Homo sapiens: one gene and its partner. The protein of the gene in region 1 purifies or fractionates together with the protein of each later gene. This does not show direct contact. Each region holds a gene or a part of one and is shown in the gene's direction. Other genes may lie near its edges.

Region 1 (3,500 bases):
GACATAGGGTCTAGGGGCTCTTTCTCCTGAGGCAGAACATCAAGAGTTCTTTCTGCCTATGTCCCTTTCAGAACACTGAGTCAAATACCCTTGGGCCTCGGCTCACTTAGGGGTCATTTCTAGGAGGCAGCACTCCACATTGAGGACAGTTCTGGGCCAGGTGGGTGGGTATCTGGGTAAACCAACAGGAATTAGTTCTCACATATAGATGATGTGTAATTTAATGCAGGCGTAAAAGGGTTAAGATCTTATTTCTGATCTTATTTCTGCCCTCCTGTACTGTCACCGAGGTGCCATTTAATTCATTAGTGAAGACTCTAACAGCTTATTCCTGAGTCACCTACGGAGAACAGAATGTGGCTCAAATCCGCTGCTTGCTTTCAGGTTCTTTACACTAATCTAGGCTTTAGATGAAACTCCTAAACCCTTTCTTTGCAAGACTGGCCAGCTAGGAAAATGATTTGAGTTTCTTCGGTTCTTCGAGGATTTGGGCCAGTATTACAGAGTATTGGAAGATGTTACCAGTTTAAATGTGAATAAAGGCACTTTCAAAACAATGGCTAATAATCCAAATAACAGACTGAATGTGCTTGGCTATGTGACTTTGGGTAAATAACTTCACCTTTCTGGGCCTCAGTTTTGTCATCTATAACATGAGAAGACAGATTATCTGTAAGGGCACTATCAGCTCTGACATTCTACAATTATGTGATAAGCCTTCAGTTCCCTCCAATGGCAGTGAGAGTGGCTTGTCAGTCCCCCTCGTTTCTTACGGAGACTTTTACGGTTGAATTGTCAATTCCTCACGTCATTATTTCAGGTTGGCTATGTATGTAAAGCTCCCAAAATCAGCTACCGAGGATAGGAGTAAAGAAAACAGTCAGTTTGGCCTCCCTGCTTATGCTTGTATGAAAAAAGTGACAGCTCCAAAGTTTCATATTCTTAAAAGGCAGATCTTCTCAGGCATGTCAGCCAGGGCCCCAGGGATCTCCTCCTTACATGCAACTAAGGAGGCTCCTTGTCTCTACTGCAGCAGGTGTGGAACCCTAGTCAACACCACCTATACCTAGGATTACGTACAATGAGTAGATACAAAGTCCTCCAGCTACCCAATCCTCCCCCAATGACGGATCCCCTTTCCAATACGCTTTCCCCCAAATTTCTCACCCTAAAACAAAATTCGAGACTTTGAAAAAACTCAATAGGACAATTATAGAATAGCTCCAGATTAGATTCATATTTTCTTAGCTAATGTTAGTAGGCTTTCTTTCCGGGCCACAGTCTGGCTGCACCTAAGCAACCTCAAGTTTGAATTTGGAGTCTTTGAATCAGGTCTTGATGGGGTCTTAGAAGTCATCAGATCCAATTCTCAATCCACAACTTCAGTCTTCTCTCCACCTCCTGACTAAGTGGTCATCCAATCTCTGTTTGAACATCTCTAGTGACAAGGAACTCATTATCTCTGGAGGCAGGTAGCACTAATCTGTCATTTTGGGGGAAAGATGGTATTCAGGGCTCAAGTGAGGGTAAGCAGAGGTATTATTTTGAATAGTATAATTTCATATTAAAACTTACAACCCACCACACCTCTGCTAGATGTTCAGTTCCATGATTATTTGCCCACCAATGCCTGCGATGCCTTTGAGAGAGCCAAAGCATTTCTATTTCAAGTTAAAGGGCAACCTGTCCATACCTGCCACATGGAACTCCCACTAAGAGAGAAATAACCCATTCTGGATTTTCTGAAAGTCCACTTTAAAAAGTATTTCAGTTGAGGTGGGGAGTGAAGCAAGAAAAAAAAAAGGCTCTGGGGAGTGTGGTTGGGCGAAAGTTCACGGAAAGGCTAGGCTGGGCTCATGAAACACGAGCTTTGCTGACTTCATGTTTTCATCTTGGCCAGGCCTCAACACCAATGCAACAACTTAGCCTAAAAGTATCTCAACCTTGATCACCACACTCTACTTTTTGAAAAGACACTAAATAGTCATTTGTTTACTTGTGATCTCACAAACATTTTCCTGTCACCACATCTTCATAGTGCCGCGCTTCAGCTCAAATGGAAAGTTGAAGCTCTGGGGCCCATGTGAGTGTTCTGAGGCTCAGGTTCCCCTGGAGGCTCTATGAACTACGCCCTTAAATCTGGCAACTGAGCTGGGCCTACAGCCAGCACTCAACAGTGACAGCACAAATTCCTTCTGGAGGAGGAAATAAAAGGAAGGGTCCTATAGACAACTGATTCCAGGAGTGGGAAGGAGCACAGGACTTTGATTATCATAAGATGTGAAAATACTACTGTCTTCTTCCCTTGTGTGCAGAGGATAGACAGATGGAATTAGCTAAGCCCAGCCTATGAATGCCATCTCACAGTTTCCACTCTTGGTTTAAACCTCAGCTTCTTTGGGTGACCTCATAATGACCAGTTAAGCCCTCCAGGCCTTTTGTTCAGTCTCTTTAAAATGGCAGCAACAGCCTTTATCATCTTCCAACCTGTGTTGATGGAAGTTCCTGTTAGCTTCTTTAAATACCTCTAGACTTCCTTCAGTTTATAAGTGAAAAGAAACCTTTTAAGAAGTGTCGCACTTGCCTTTGAACATCAACACCATTGGGAGATGGCCTGTGTTTCCGAAATGCTGATTATTCTAAGTAAATACAGTGCAACTATCAATAAGAGAATCTCTTCAGCCCATTGAAAGGGATAGCAAAATTAAAAATGTCTGAGGGTCTTTTCATAGTCTGGCATTTCTCCCCAAGGTCAAACTTACTATTATCTTTTCCTACAGGATTTCAGACCAAATTTATTCTAATAGATACACACCATGCTTTATGTTTAATAATATTCCATATACCAGTTCCCAGGGTAGAATCATCTCCCCATTCGGCATTATTTGTCAATATCTGTCAAAGCCAAGGAGGTTGAGGTCATAGGAAGGGTCAGGATCACAGCCTCTGGTCTGGAGAGAGCACTGGAATGGAGATAATAAGGCCTGGATTTTACTTCCAGATTCTCCCCTGGGCTTTCTGGGTTGTTGGCTCATCTGTCAGATCCATGGACTCCCAATTGGCATGATGGAATTAATGACAGGATCTGAGTCTATATGATAATCCTCACCAGAAACAGACAACAGAGTAATGACAGATGCAAAACGAATGATAATTTTAAAACCCCACAGCAGAGCCCCTGTCAAAATGACCTCTTGCAATGCTTCTTATTTTAGGATATAATGTTAAACAAAGAGGAGACGAAGAAAGAAAACAGCTTTGAAATGCAAAAAGGTAGGTTTGCTATTTGCTAATTTCTATGAATGCCTAAAAACTAAAAGGAAGCTTTAGGCTGATCATATTGAACAACCCAGTGTTGTTGCATCAGGGAACTTTTAGCCCTGGAAATAAAACAGGAACACAATTGTCAAATTGACACCTTCTCTGGTCCCTGTGATTTGGAAAGACTTTGTACATATATATTTATGAAAAAAGGATGTGTTCCTTTAATGCCGATGATA
Region 2 (4,223 bases), on another chromosome or scaffold:
TCAAATGCAGGCTGTCTGAGCCTCCTCTCCTGATGGCAGGTCATGCTATTAAGGGTCTCCCAGAAGAAAGGTTCTGGAACTCTGAGAAACAGAAGCTCTTCTAACAGAACTTTTTCTTGCTATAAGCTTTCAATACCACCAATCACCAGTGCACCTTCTTCTCATGCCAAAATACGGCCCCTCCTTTGTAGGGTGTAAAACGACACTGATGTCACTCTCTCTCACCAAGGTCTGGCCATCTCTGTGAAGCTCTCCTCACAGGCACCCTGCAGATTCATCAATAAACTTCAACAGGTTAGCGCCAGTAGGCCAATAAGATGCACACTTATATTCTAGAACCTGTGAAAGAAGTAATAGCCAGAAACTGGAAAATAACAGTCAAACTCTTAAAAAAATGCCTCTCAGAACACAGTCACTTACACCTTTTCCTCTGGTAGTTCTCTTCAGCACCAAGTTTCCTGGAAGAACAAGCTACTCCCCAGTTTTCTTAAAGAATTGTCTGATTGTATTAAGTAAGTGGCTTCTGGTAAAATAATGGTAAGAGAAAAGCTCTGGCATTCTCTTGATCACTCATCTTCTCTGCCTTCCTCCCTAGCAACATCTCCTGGCCTCAGCCTGTGGGCTTCAGCAACACCAAACTCCATGTTGCTCTCTGACAAGCCCGGCCGTCTCCAGTTCTTGGGCTTTATTTCCTCGGGGGCCCTCTGCTGAAATTCCCTTCCCCTTGCTGTATTAGCACCTCCTACCCGCCTTCAACATGCAGGCACTGCCTCCTCTAAGGAGCCATCTGTACTTACGTAGCTGTGAGCATAGGATGGGGCATACAGCAGGCACTTAACAAATACTTGTGGAATGGAAAGAAACTAAGATAGGATCAAAAATACAAATCAAGATGTGAGAGAAAGACGATCAAAAGCCCTCACGAGGGGGCTGGGCGTGATGGCTCACACCTGTAATCTCAACACTTTGGGAGGCTAAGGCGGGTGGATCACTTGAGGGTGGGAGTTTGAGATCAGCCAGAGCAACATGGAGAAACCTCGTCTCTACTAAAAATACAAAAAATTAGCCAGGCATGGTGATATATGCCTGTAATCCCAGCTACTCGGGAGGCTGAGGCAGGAGAATTGCTTGAACCTCGGAGGTAGAAGTTGTGGTGAGCTGAGATCATGCCATTGTACTCCAGCCTGGGCAACAGGAGTGAAACTCTGTCTCAAAAAAAACAAAAAACAAAAAAGAACACCACGGGAAAATCAAGTGTGAAGCAAGAGCTCAACTCTTAACAGGGGCAATGTTTGGAGTTTTGTTACTGGAAAAGATAGAGACCTTACCAGGTCCAAAGTTTGTAGACACAGGAATTACGAAATGGAGAAGGGGGAGAAGTGAGCTAGTGGCAGCATAAAAAGACCAGCAGATGCCCCACAGCACTGCTCTTCCAGAGGCAAGACCAACCAAGATGAGGTGGGTCCACAGCTTTCCCTCCTGCCTTTCCTCTGGTTCTTTATTTCAGTCTTTTTTGCATACATTGGTACAGATGCAGAAATAGAACAAAGAAACAGGGCAAATGGGCTAAATTATAGTGAACCAAAGGGCTTAGTGTGTTAAATCTTCTCCTTTTCTGCATCCATAGAAGACAGTGCTGCTGTCTTTCCCAGGAGATAAGATTTACTCTCAGGAGTGTCTTTTTCCTTGAGGTTACGTTTTTGTCTTTGTAGGGTATGTCATCAGCTCCCGTGGTAGGCTTCCTGGCATTCGGAATATATTTACTAGCAGATATTTTCCTCTTTAAAAATGTATAATAAGAAAGACTAATAGTAACACATTTGAATGACACAATTAATTGACTAGTACTTGGGATACACACTAGTACCTGGGATACATCTAATTAAGACACTTAGATCTTAAAAAATAAAAAGACTTTTTGAAATGTTGAAATAATAAGACTAGAAACTTTTTTTTTTGTGAGACAGAGTCTCACTCTGTCACCAGGATGGAGTGAGTGGCGCGATCTCAGCTCATCGCAACCTCCCCCTCCCCGGTTCAAGCAATTCTCCTGCCTCAGCCTCCCAAGTAGCTAGGACTACAGGCGTGTGCCACCACGCCCAGCTAATTTTTGTATTTTTAGTAGCGATGTGGTTCACCATGTTGGCCCGGATGATCTCGATCTCTTGACCTCGTGATCCACCTGTCTCGGCCTCCCAAAGTGTTGGGATTACAGGTGTGAGCCACCGCACCCTGCCTAGAAACTATTTTAATAGAAGCAAATAGTGCCTGAATGGTGGGCGTCTGTTAGCGAGATGGTGAACTGGCAGATGGCGCCTGTGTGTCAATGCCCATGGCCACCGTCCTGCTTTCAGACACCAGTTCTCTTCCAGGTAACCTTCTGGCATTTTGGGGTTTGAGATACCATTTCCTAAAGGTGAATTATCACAAAATACTAGAAATAACCACATAAGTGTTTAAAATTATTGTTAAATACAGTAAGAAATTCTTCTTCAAAAGTTTAGCCTGCTTAAGTTTCCTTGTCCTTTGTTTCCTGCTTTCAAGGCCAGACTTCCTTACTCTCTGTGTTTCCCCTACCCTGGTAAACAACCTTCCTGCCAGTCCTTACCCATACAGCCCACATTCCACATCTGCTACCCACTCTGTGATTTACCTCTCCCGTCGCAATAGCCTCTCCCACCAAAACTGATCTTCCCGCCTTCCCACCAGTGCAACCACATTCCTGCACTTTGCAAGTTAGCCAACCGGGTTCGGATTGTGCAGTCCAACTCCAGCCAATGGAGTCAGGACACAGTAGCAGGGACAAGCTGCGTTAGACATAAAAACCTCTGCTTTCCTTTGTTTAGGGTGCTCTCGTGGCAACCAGACTTACCAGGAGCTCTATTCTGCAAAAGTAAATTTGCCTTGCTGAGAGACCCTTTGTCCTTTGGCTCAGTGTTGGTTCTTCTTTGCAGCACCGAGCATTTGTTTCCAACAAATTTGGTGGCCCATACAGGGAAAACATTGTCCTCCGGGAAAGGGTCTTTGATCACCTCTTGTGAGGAGACACATCCCACTGCCTTGTTGCAGTGGCCTCATGAGTAAGGAATCGAGACCCACCTGGTCTGATGAATAACCCCAGACTCTCAACAACGTGGGGAGAAAAAGACTTGCAACACTATGGTGGCCAGGTAACTCTGTGCGCAGACCAAGGTAAGAAATGTCGCAGGAGTGACAAAGTACTTCCTTGGTGGTCACTATATTCTGGTGGCTGAAAGTTCATGAATGGTAACAAGTGCTACTGCTGTGTGGAGTGAATGAGTCCAATCTGTGGGTCTATGGTTACCTCATACGGCTTAGCCTTCTCTGAAGGATCCTGATGTTGGGGTTTATATAGTCCTCCCAATGCTAAGCGGGACTTAAAATATTCCTAGGAGGAAAGTGGCCAGAGTGGATGAAGCAAAAGGAGAAGAGTGTGAAGAACCTCCAGGAGGTGGGGCTAAAAGATAGGCAAGAAATCTCTAATACGAGGGATTGAGCCACAGAAAGCTCCAGACAGATAAAAAAGAAATTCCTAATATGAGGAACTGAGCCACAGCAAGCCTCCAGCAGGCAACAAATCCCTAATATGAGGGATTGAGCCTAGCTAAGACCCAATATGGGAAATACCCCAAGAAAGACAGAGAATAAGAAGGATGAAAATAGTAACAAGGATATACCCCTTGATAGTCCCCTAGGTTTCATGTTAAAATACTGGAAAGATAATGAGAGGACTAAGCATAAGAAGAAGGAGCAAATGATAAAATATTGCTGTTTCATTTGGACCCAAGGTCCCATCCTCAAACCCTCAATCTTCTGGCCAAAGTATGGGTCGAATGAGGGTGTAATGAGTCAACTCCTAATCCAATATGTTAATGATAAAAGTCTGGTTTCTCAAGAAGAACTAGACTATGCTCTTTGTTGGAAGCAGGGACCTGTCCTCCTCTTTCCCTTAAAGACAACTAGGGAAGAATCCGATCCAGCATCTCAAATTGAGAAGTCAGACAAGCCGACTCCCACACCTAAAGTCAGCACATGGGATCCCCTAGACTGTCTTCCTTTGCTTACTGCCCCAATCCTAACCCCCCTACTCCTCAGGCAGCTGCTGCTGCCCCAGATCCCATCCCAGATTCTTCCCCAACTCATGATGTTCCTCCCGCTTACAACCCTGACTCTCAGGGGCAGTCGTCCCAAGAGCCTGTTCA

Evidence for each region. Proteins that work in one complex are often made in the same cells at the same time.
Region 2: the proteins of CD40LG (region 1) and HPR purify together in Homo sapiens (affinity purification with western blotting, with the first as the bait; one study listed by BioGRID). This does not show direct contact.

What each region holds. Positions count from the first base shown.
Region 1 is NC_000023.11:136,651,158-136,654,657, forward strand, and holds part of CD40LG (CD40 ligand), read left to right. Parts: intron 1-3,215; coding exon 3,216-3,273; intron 3,274-3,500. UniProt on the Homo sapiens protein: Cytokine that acts as a ligand to CD40/TNFRSF5. Costimulates T-cell proliferation and cytokine production.
Region 2 is NC_000016.10:72,061,803-72,066,025, forward strand, and holds the start of HPR (haptoglobin-related protein isoform 1 precursor), read left to right. Parts: upstream 1-1,423; 5' UTR 1,424-1,453; coding exon 1,454-1,458; intron 1,459-2,954; exon of another isoform or gene 2,955-3,192; intron 3,193-4,223. UniProt on the Homo sapiens protein: Primate-specific plasma protein associated with apolipoprotein L-I (apoL-I)-containing high-density lipoprotein (HDL).